Linked DNA regions of Homo sapiens: region 2 is linked to region 1. The links come from fine-mapping of genetic effects on gene expression. A gene starts in region 1. The other region holds a variant in brackets. All regions are shown on one strand. Distances are from middle to middle. Region 1 holds the start of PLPP2 (phospholipid phosphatase 2). Region 2 overlaps MIER2 (MIER family member 2).

What was found. PIP is the estimated chance that this variant, and not a neighbour inherited with it, causes the effect.
Region 2: its variant is the best candidate, but not a certain one, in a credible set for the expression of PLPP2 in visceral fat (GTEx, PIP 0.70).

Annotation. Positions count from the first base shown.
Region 1 is chr19:289,079-294,442 of GRCh38, reverse strand. PLPP2 (phospholipid phosphatase 2) reads left to right here and starts at 3,040. Exons shown (of 6, transcript NM_003712.4): 1 at 3,040-3,158. The coding sequence starts at 3,107. RefSeq lists enhancers at 1-446, 3,146-3,843, 3,874-4,387, 3,844-4,542.
Region 2 is chr19:315,081-320,444 of GRCh38, reverse strand. All of the region lies in intron 7 of MIER2 (MIER family member 2), which reads left to right. Among named protein-coding and RNA genes, the nearest start is that of PLPP2, 26 kb to the right of the region's middle. The variant C/T (reference allele first, on the strand shown) is at 3,242.

The sequences.
Region 1 (5,364 bases):
GCTGTGTGTTTTTCTTTGCTGTGACCCAGTGAAGACCTCCTCACAGACAGAGCACAGCAGACTCGCGGTGCTGAAACCCGGAGGGTTACCCTGTCCCTGACTGACTGTAAGGTTACACTAAATTAAGAGGCACTCCAAGGATTGCAAAGTCCGAGGGGAATTTTGAATTCGTGGGTCCTGGATTGTGAATTTGAAGGCAGCGGTTTCCAACCCTTTTAAATCTTGACCCCAGGAAGAAGTACCTTCTACATCTTGACCCAGCAAACACGTGATACCTACCCACACTGTATTTTGTTCAATTAACCCTCAAATGATGTTTCCTAATGTTTGGCCCTGGGTCAAGCATTTCACAAACTATTTAATCTTCTCTACAATCCCAGGTGGTAGCTACTGTCTTGCCGCCTTTATGCAGACAGAGACTGAGGGATACCTTAGATGTCTTTCCAAACCATCCACCCCCTCAGCCTTCCCTGCCCACTGCCTGCACGTCAAACCCACTGACGGGCACTCGTTCGACTCCAAGAGCCCCGTGCCAGGAACCTGGGAGACAACTCCCGTTTTGACTCTGGGCAAGGTACTTCACCTCTCAAGTCCCAGAGAAGCAGAGAAAGCAACGGCAGGTATAGTGGCTGGCTGCACTTAGGTGGCACCTACTGTGTGCCAGGCCCCCTTCTGCCCACTTCACAGGTGTCTTAGTCTCCATAGAGTCCATTTGGAAACAGGCCCGGAGCCATCCAGGTTGCGATGAGGCACCAAGGTGGCAGAGCCAGTGCTGGGCAAGAGGCGGGAGCTGCAGTTGCTGAACCCGTGAGCTTGCTTGCCTGGGAGTGGCGACCTGGCCCTCAGGGGTTGCTTGTCTCTAGGGGACCCAGCCTGGGTACATGTACCACCACCCGCTTCCAGCTCTGCTATTTGCAGGTGAAGGAGAAAGCCACTGAGGCCTGGCCTCCAGGCCAGGCTCTGTCCCTGCTGGGAGCTGCCCTGGCCTCAGGTTCTTCCTGGAAGGGAGGACCAGGCAGCTGGGGGCAGCAGCAGATCCAGCTATGAAAGCCGTGACAAGAAGTTCCTTGAAGTGTGGTGGGCTGCAGTCAGCATATGTAGGAGACGACCCCAATCCTGACCCTAATCCTAATTCTTGCTTTCCCCACCAGATTTTAATCCTTATCCTGCCCAGGGATTTTAAGGGCTAACCCAAATCCTGACCCAAGGGGAAGGATGGAAGGGGGAACAGCCTGCAGCCTCACCTCCACCCTCTATCCTCCCAGGTCTACCTCCACCCCTCTCCTGGGTCTCTCCCTCTTGGCTTGGCCCCATCCCACAGCCCCCACTGTCTTCCCCCCGCTCCCACTTTGGCAGGCCCCTCCAAGTGACCTCTCCCTTGCTCCCCAGCACACAGTAGGTGCTCAATGAAGAACACCGCCTTTCCTTGACTCCAGTAGATGTTGCACCCTCTCCATCTTAGGAGAAAATGTGCGTTGGCTGTCAAGACTACACTGACAGCAGTGGTCACTCATTTGCAGACAGGGTGAAGTGTGGGGGAAAGCGCAGTAGTGACGCTGAACCCTACATTTATGTAGCATTGATGCTAGGCACCAGAACCCTCACAATCCTAATTCCGACGGGAGCTAGAGCCCCCCCACCCCACCGTGAGTGCAGCAAGGGAGCACCTCAACCCTGCCCTTGGAGGGCCACAGGTCAGCTTGCACCGTCTTCCCACCCAGCACCACTCTGGGTGCCTTTGCTGTCTCCCAAGAGCCCCTTGCCCTTGGAGTTCCCTCATGATGCCCCCCTGCCCCACGTGCAGGTGTCTGACCATCCGGGAAGCAGGGTCGAGGAGCTCCCAGTTGAAGTCCAGTTGCTGAGACGCACCCTGTTTTGGTGTTGCTGGGGCAGGGGGCTGATGGTGGTGCTGAACGGGTTTTAGAGGAGGGTCAGGGTGGCAGCGGATCTGGGGCCCAGCAGCCTTGTTTCTGACCCCAGGCCTGCCACTTCCCATTTAAGTGACCGTGAGTGGCAGAGGTCAAGGCTGGACTCCGGAAACGTGGGTCTGACACTCCTGAGGCCTCCCGGATGGTCCCAGCCGAAAGGACCCAGTGTGGGTCCCTTGGGCCTGGGTTTCCCTGGCTCAGGTGCCCTCAATCCCCAGGCACCCTCAGCTCAGGGCTCCCCACGACCTGGTGGGGGCACAGACCCCGGCGCCATTTCATGGGGTTCCCAGCTCCTGGCGCCCCCGTGCTCTTCTGTGAAATGGGACAGCAAGTGCGCTGATAGGAACGGTGCCTGGGCACAGGGCTGCGCCTGGACACCCTACGCCGTCGCAAGGTGGGTGCCGAGGAACTCGAGCTTCTAACGTGCCAGGGGTCCAAGGACGCGCCAGGATTTTGAGTATTAGGAGAAAAGAAACTCCTGAAATGAAGCCACGTCGCCCCTTCCACTTTAAGGTGCCTCCTGCTGTCGGAGTTTCCAGGCGCACACGGCGCGGCTGCCACTCCCTGAGGAGGAAAGTCGGGAACCGTCCCGCGGGGCCGGTCCCGCCGCTGCTCGTCCTCCTTCTCCACGTCCCCGCCCGGGGCTCCGCCGGCCCGACCCGCGGGGAACCTCCAGCCTCTGAGGACCTCACGCCGCTCGGAGACCCGCACAGCCCGGGTCAGGGCCGGGACTCCGGGCGGACGAGGTCCCCGTGGCGCCCGCACGCTCGCCCCACCCGCTCTTTTGGGCGCCGCGGCCAGGCGGGGGCAGAGTCCGCGCGGTCCCGGGTCCGCCGCGCCCCGCCCCCCCCGCTGCTCCCCTGCCCGCCGCTGCCGTCCCCCCTCCCTCCTCCCCTCCCCCCCTTCTTCCCTTCCCTCCCCCTCCCCCCTCCCCTCCCCGCCCCTAGCCCTCCCCTCCTCCCCTCCCCCTCCCTCCTCCCCTCCCCGCCCCTAACCCTCCCTCCTCCCCTCCCCTCCCCTCCTCACCTCTCCCCTCGTGCCCTCCCCGCCCCTCCCCTCCTCCCCTTCCCGCCCCTCCCCTCCTCTCCGCGCGGGGCGGGCTCCGCGCCACGTGACTCCGCGGCCGGGCCGGGACGCGACGGGACGCGCTGGGACCGGCGTCGGGGGTCGCGGGGACCATGCAGCGGAGGTGGGTCTTCGTGCTGCTCGACGTGCTGTGCTTACTGGTCGGTAAGAGCCTTGGGGACCCGGGTGTTGGGGGGACCCTCCCGGGACGGACACGCCCCCGGCTGCGCGCAAGTTTGCAGGGGAACGCGGAGGCTGCGCGCCCTCGTCCCTCCGAGGACCCTGGAGGCGGGGACCTCGCGTGAGGACCAGACCTCCCTCCGCGCCCCGCACTGCGCGCGCCCTCCCAGGCTCGGGGGTCCCCGCGTCCCAGGCCCAGGGGGATGGGGGTCGCGAGAGGCCCGGGGAGCCGGGGCCAGCATCCCCCGCCCCGGCAGCAGGAAGTCTGTGCGGAGGGGCCGCGCGCGCGCCTCCATCCCGCCCCGCCTGGCCTGGGAGGTGAGTCACGCGGGCCCGGGAGGTGGGGGCGGCCGCGGGTTACCCCGGCAGGACGTCCGCGCCTCCGCCCCTGGGGTGGGCGCTCCCGCTGCGCGCGGAGAGGGCTGACCCTCGGTCCTGGCACCCGGTGCGTCGGCGGGATTCGAACCCGTGCACGTGCGGGGAGGCCCAGCCGCCCTGCTGGCTCGGGCGGGGGAGACACTGGGGATGAAGGCTGGGTCCCAGGCTTCGGGTGAACGGGGTGGCGGGGGGCCGGGAGGCCAGGAGAACCAAACCTGTCCGGCGGGTTTGCGGGCCACACTGGCGGAATGGGCATCCCGAGGCCCCCCTCCCGCAGGGTCCCGGGAACAAAGGCCGAGTGTTTGCTCTGTGGCTGCACAGACAATGGCCCTGGAATTCTATCTCTGGGGGGTGCCCTCCTCCCCAACGTGTTTCCTGCTTCTCTGCCATCTCACAGCAGAGGCCAAGTCCTCTTACCTCCGGAAGGAGACCCTTTTTTAGGGTGGGCCAGGTGACAGCAAGAAGTCCCTGTGGGTGTCTGCCAGCCCGTGGTACCATTTCCTGAGCACCTATGGTGTTATTTATGTAAACATTTAGGTGGCACTTTCTGTATGCCAGGAACTAAGCAACATGCAAATAACAAACATTTCCCTTACAACAGCCTGTGAGGGAGGTGCTGAGTCACCTGCCGGAGGTCACACAGCAGCGGGAGGTACAGCCGAGATGGGGTTGGCTGTTGCTGCTGTGTGCCAGGGGTGGTGGCCAGGCCGAGTGCACCTCTATGCTGGAAGCTTGAGCACACCACAGTTCAGTCAACACTGAGGTTCCAGATGCTGGCATGAGGGCAGTGTGAGGGCGGGAGGGCTCCCGGGGGCTAAATGAAGAGAAGGTGTCTGTTTTGGGGACCCCAGGGAGAGCTTTCCAGGCCGAGGGAAGCCCGGCGCCTGTCGTTATGGGGGTGCCTGCGTCTCTAGTTGGAGTTGCTGGGGCAGGGAGGTCGGAAACGGAGGCTAACCTGTGTGAGCCTCCGCCCGATAAGAGCTGTGGTCGGGCTGCACTCCCTTCTGGGCATCTCGTAACCCTGACTTTCCACCCGGCCGGCAACTGCAGGAGCCTCCTCCAAGGCCTCTCCCTTCACAGCAGCTCCAGCCCCTCCTGTGTGGGAGCAGAAGGCAGGTTCTTACATCCCGCCCTCTCCGCCGTCCTGCCCTGCCTCCAGGCCCTGGCGCTGCCCTTTTTTTTTCTTTCTTGAGACAGAGTCTCGCCCTGTCGCCAGGCTGGTGTGCAGTGGTGCAATCTCGGCTCACTGCAACCTCTGCCTCCTGAGTTCAAACGATTCTCCTGCCTCAGCCTCCCGAGGAGCTGGGACACCGCCACACCCAGATAATTTTTGTATTTTTAGTAGAGTTGGGGTTTCACCGTGTTAGCCAGGATGGTCTCGATCTCCTGACCTCGTGATCTGCCCGCCTCGGCCTCCCAAAGTGCTGAGCCACCACGCCGGGCCTGCCCATTCTGTTCTGCATTCCCTCACCTTTCTTGCTCGGTGAGGCAGGCCTCTGTTTTCTTCACCAGATTATTTCCCCAGACTTAGCCAGCATGGAAGGTGTACGGTGTCCTAGGGCCCTTGGAGTTAGCATGTCGGGAGGAGTGTGGGGCTCCCTGCCCCTCCGCTGACATTCAGAACTTAGAAAAGCCACACCCTTTTGTACTTGCCCTGCTGGGCCAAAGGATGCCCTGCCTTGGTTTGTCTCTGGGCTAGCCGACCCGGGCTTTTGTTGTGCGCCTGCCCTCTGCCCCGTTCTCCGTAGATGACTCCTGCTTCCCTGGCCACCCTCAGCTCAGCAGGGCCCCAGGAGCCCCAGTGCCATGGCAG
Region 2 (5,364 bases), 26 kb before region 1:
TTATTTACGTATCTATTTTTTAAATTTAAATTTTATTTATTTATCTATCTATCTATTTAGTTTTTTGGACAAAGTCTTGCTCTGTCGCTCAGGCTGGAGTGCCGTGGCGCAATCTTGGCTCACTGCAACCTCTGCTCCCGGGCTCAAGTGATTCTCGTGCTGCAGTCTCCCGAGTAGCTGGGACTACAGATGTGCGCCACTGCACGCCGGCTAATTTTTTTTTTGTTTATTTTGTAGAGACCAGGCTTCATCTTGTTGCCCAGGCTGGTCTCAAACTCCTGGCCTCAAGTGATCTGTCCGCCTCAGCCCCCCAGAGTGCCGGGATTACACTCATGAGCCACTGCACCCGGCCTGCAGTAAGGCGTCTTTAAGTGGACACCTGAAACAAGTTTATGTATTGATTGCTTGATGAAAATGCTGTGTATCCCCTGGTGCAGTGATTACATGCTCGCTGTGAGCACCTGGATTAATGAAAATCAACATATACGTATTTAATCCCTTCCCTCCTCAGTTTGATGTGCTCACATTTATGATTTTTGCATGTATGTTCATGGAGGTACTGGCCTGTCCTTTTATTTTTATTTGTCCGTGTCTGGTTTTGGTACCAGAGTTATGCTGCTTTCGTGAATGTGTTTGGAAGTGTGCCTTTTTCCTAACCTCTGGAGGAATTATTCTTTAAGATGTGAGAGGCCAGGAGTGGGGGCTCATGCCTTTAATCCCAGCACTTTGGGAGGCTGGGGTGGGCGGATCACGAGGCCAGGAGTTTGAGAACAGCCTGACCAACATGGTGAAACCCTGTCGCTACTAAAAATACAAAAATTAGCTGAGCGTGGTGGCACGCAACTGTAGTCCCAGCTACTGGAGAGGCTGAGGCAGGAGAATCACTTGAACCCGGGAGGCAGCGGTTGCAGTGAGCCAAGATTTCGCCATTGCACTCCAGCCTGGGTGACAGAGCGAGACTCCGTCTCAAAAACAAAAACAAAAAGTTTTATCAATTGTATTACTCTTTACAAAGGACTAACTTTAGCCTTGTTCATGTCTCCCTGTTGCTGGATTTCTGTTTTTTACTTTTTGTGTGTGTGTGTGACAGGGTCTCGCTCTATTGCCCAGGCTGGAGTTCAGTGGTGCAATATTGACTCACTGGAAACTTCGCCTCCAAGGTTCAAACGATTCTCCTGCCGCAGCCTCCTGAGTAGCTGGGACTACAGGCGCCCGCCACCACGCCTAGCTAATTTTTGTATTGTTAGTAGAGATGGGGTTTCACCATGTTGGCCAGGCTGGTCTCAAACTCCTGACCTCAGGTGATCCACCCACCTTGGCCTCCCAAAGAGCTGGGATTACAGGCATGAACCAGCACCCAGCCTTTTTACTGATTTTTTTTTTTTTTTTGAGACAGAGTCTCACCTGTGGCCCAGGCTGGAGTGCAGTGGCGTGAACTCTGTTCACTGCAAGCTCCGCCTCCTGGGTTCACGCCATTCTCCTGTCTCAGCCTCCCAAGTAGCTGGGACTATAGGCGCCCACCACCACGCCCGGCTAGTTTTTTGTATTTTTTAGTAGAGACGGGGTTTCACTGTGTTAGCCAGGATGGTCTGGATCTCCTGACCTCATGATCTGCCCGCCTCGGCCTCCCAAAGTGTTGGGATTACAGGTGTGAGCCACCGCGCCCAGCCTCCTTTTACTGATTTTTAATTGAATTACACTGTGGTCAGAAAACATACTCCGTGATTTCAGTTCTTTGTAATTAGTTGCACCTCGCTTTATGTCCATTATTTGATCTGTTTTGGTAAATGTTGTACGTGTTTGAAGAGAGTGTGCTGTGCTGTTGTTGGGTGGAATTTTCCGTGTATTCCCTTGGATCCGCTGGATAATTGTTGTTCACATCATCTGTATTCTCACTTAATTTTTTTGGCTGCTTGTTCTATTTACTGAAAGATTGTTAATGACCTCCTCTGATTGTGGATTGTCTATTTCCCCTTTTTAATGCTGTCCATTTTTACTTCACATTGTGTTAAGTGCATACACGTTAAGATTGCTTTGTCTTTGTGTTGAATTGTTTCTTTTACCATTGTGACGTGTCTCTCTGTAGTAACACTTCTTACCGTAAATAAGTACTTAATCTGCCATCAGTGTGACCACAGCAGCTTTTTGTTGATTTGTTTAGTGTTTGCATGGTTTTTTCCCATTCTTTTTTCCATTCTAGATTCCTATATTTGAAGTGTATTTTCTGTAAATGGCACATGTTTAGATCTTGTTTTTTGAGACGGAGTCTCTGGAGTGCATTGGCATAATATCCACTCACTGCAGCCTCCGCCTCCCGGGTTCAAGCAATTCTTCCCCCTCTGCCTCCCAAGTAGCTGCAATTACAGGCGTCCGCCACCATGCCCAGCTAAGTTTTGTATTTTTAGTAGAGATGGGGTTTCACCATGTTGGCCAGGCTGGTCTCAATCTCTAGACCTCAAGTGACCTGCCCACTTCGGCCTCCCAATGTGCTGGGATTATAGGTGTGAGCCACTGTGTCCGACCTAGATCTTATTTTTAATTGTCTGAGAAAACCATTGTCTTTTAATAGACTTTTTAGTCCATGTACATTTTTTAAATCACTTGTATGTCATGTAATTATAAAACAATTGTGTAATGCCACCATCTTGCTCTTTGCTTTCTGTGTGTTCCATCTGTTCTTTGTTTTTTGTTTGTTTGTTTTTTTTTTTTTTTTTGAGACAGAGTCTCACTCTCATTGCCCAGGCTGGAGTGCAGTGATGCGATCTTACTTCACGGCAACCTCCACCTCCCGGGTTCAAGTGATTCTCCTACCTTAGCCTCCCAAGTAGCTGGGATTACACGCATCCGCCACCATGCCTGGCTAATTTTGTATTTTTATTTTATTTATTTATTTATTTATTTATTTATTTATTTTTTCTGAGACAGAGTCTCGCTTTGTCACCCAGGTTGGAGTGCAGTGGCGCGATCTCAGCTCACTGCAAGCTCCGCCTCCCGGGTTCACGCCATTCTCCTGCTTCAGCCTCCTGAGTAGCTGGGACTACAGGCACCCGCCATGACTCCCGGCTAATGTTTTGTATTTTTAGTAGAGACGAGGTTTCACCGTGTTAGCCCGGGTGGTCTCGATCTCCTGACCTCGTGATCCGCCCGCCTCAGCCTCCCAAAGTGCTGGGATTACAGGTGCCCGCCACCGCGCCCGGCCTAATTTTGTATTTTTAGTAGAGATGGGTTGTCTCCATGTTGG[C/T]CAGGATGGTCTCGATCTCCTGACCTCGTGATCCGCCCACGTCGGCCTCCCAAAGTGCTGGGATTACAGGCGTGAGCCACTGGACCTGGCCTGTTGTTTGTTTTTTAATTTTTTTATATCTTCTTTTGGATTAATAGGTTTATTTTGTCCTTCTGTTTCAGCTTATAAGTTTTAGTTTTAGCGCTTTAGAGGTTACAACATGAATTATTGACTTATCACAGTCTACATTTTTTTTGAGATAGAGTCTTGTTCTGTCGCCCAGGCTGGAGTACAGTGGTGTGATCTCGGCTCATTGCAACCTCCGCCTCCTGGGCTCAAGCGATTCTCCTGCCTCAGCCTCCCAAGTAGGTGGGACTACAGGCACACGCCACCATCCCCAGCTAATTTTTGTATTTTTAGTAGGGATGAGGTGTCACTGTGTTGGCTATGCTGGTCTTGAACTCCTGACCTCCAGTGACCTCAGCCTCCCAAAGTGCTGACATTACAGGAGTGAGCCACCACACCGGGCCTCACAGCTTGAAATAAGTACATTCTAGTTCCCCTACAATGCAAGAAACAGTTTAACTCAATTTACCTGCCCCCTGCCTTTTGTGCTATCGTTAATTTTACATATGAGCCGGCTGTGGTGGCTCATGCCTATAATCCGAGCACTTTGGGAGGCCGAGGCAGGCAGATTGCCTGAGGTCAGGAATTTGAGACCAGCCTGGCCAACATGGTGAAACCCTGTGTCTACTAAAAATACAAAAATTAGCCAGGCGTGGTGGGCACCTGTAGTCCCAGCTACTCGGGAGGCTGAGGCAGGAGAATCGCTTGAACCCCGGAGATGGAGGTTGCAGTGAGCCAAGATCGCACCACTGCACTCCAGCCTGGGGGACAGAGCAAGACTCCATCTCCAAAAAAAAAAAATCTACATATCACAAGATGATAACATTGTTGTTTTAAACAGTGAACATTCTTTGTATTTATCCTATCCACATATTTCCTCCAGCTTCCATTTGGAATCATTTCCTTCAGCCGGAAGAACTTCCTTTGTAATAGGCCTTGTGCTTTCTTTCAGCATTTTTTTGTCTGAAAAGCCTGGATTTTTGCTTTCATTCTTTAAAGCATATTTTCATGGCATGTTTTTCCAGGTTTGCAGGGTGTTTTCTTTCAACACTTGAAAAATTTCACTCCATTGCGTTTTGGCTGTCATCGTTTCTGTTGAGAAGTCAGAGGACGGTCTTACTCTTTCTTCTGAAGTCATTGTGCCCTTTTCTCTCCTAAGAGTTGTTTCCTTTCCTTTATTTGTTTGTTTTTCACCAGTTTGGCTCTCCTGTGCCTGTGCACACGTCTTCGTGTGTCCTTGTATTCGTCCTGAGTTTCCTGGCTCTGTGGGTTGGTATCAGTCGTCAGTTTTGAAGAATTCTTGGCTGTTACCTCTTCAGATTTTGTGCTGCCTCCTTCTTTGCTTTCTCTGTCACTCATTTACACGTATCTTAGAGGTTGCCTCACTGTCTTGTACTACCCTAAACGGTGTTCTTTCCTTTTACACTTTGGTTTTGGTCTTGTAAACATTGGTTTCCTTTTGATTCCACTAATTGTGTTTTGTGCTGTGTTCAGGCTGCTGGTAAAAAAGCTGTTCAGTGGGTCCATTCGGGTATTGTATTATCCAGTCCTGGAAGGTCCTTGAGATTCTTTTCTATAAATTTCAAGTCTCTGCTGAGACTCTCCGGCGTTTTGTCCATTTCCTTAACGTATTAATCCTCGTTAGATTGAAGTCTTCGTGTGCTGACTCTTAACATCGGCTGTGTGTAGACCTGCTTTGTTGTCTGATGTGTTCTTGTTTTGTTTGTTTGTTTGAGACGGAGTCTCGCTCTTCTCGCCCAGGCTGGAGTGCAGTGGCGCGATCTTGGCTCACTGCAACCTCTGCCTCCCGGGTTCAAGTGATTCTCCTCCCTCAGCCTCCCGAGTAGCGGAGATTACAGGCGCCCATGACCACGCCCGGCTAATTTTTGTATTTTTAGTAGAGCTGGGGTTTCGCCATGTTTGCCAGGCTGGTCTCGAACTCCTGACCTCAGGTGACCCGCCCGCCTCAGCCTCCCAAAGTGCTGGGATGACAGGCGTGAGCCACCACGCCTGGCCTT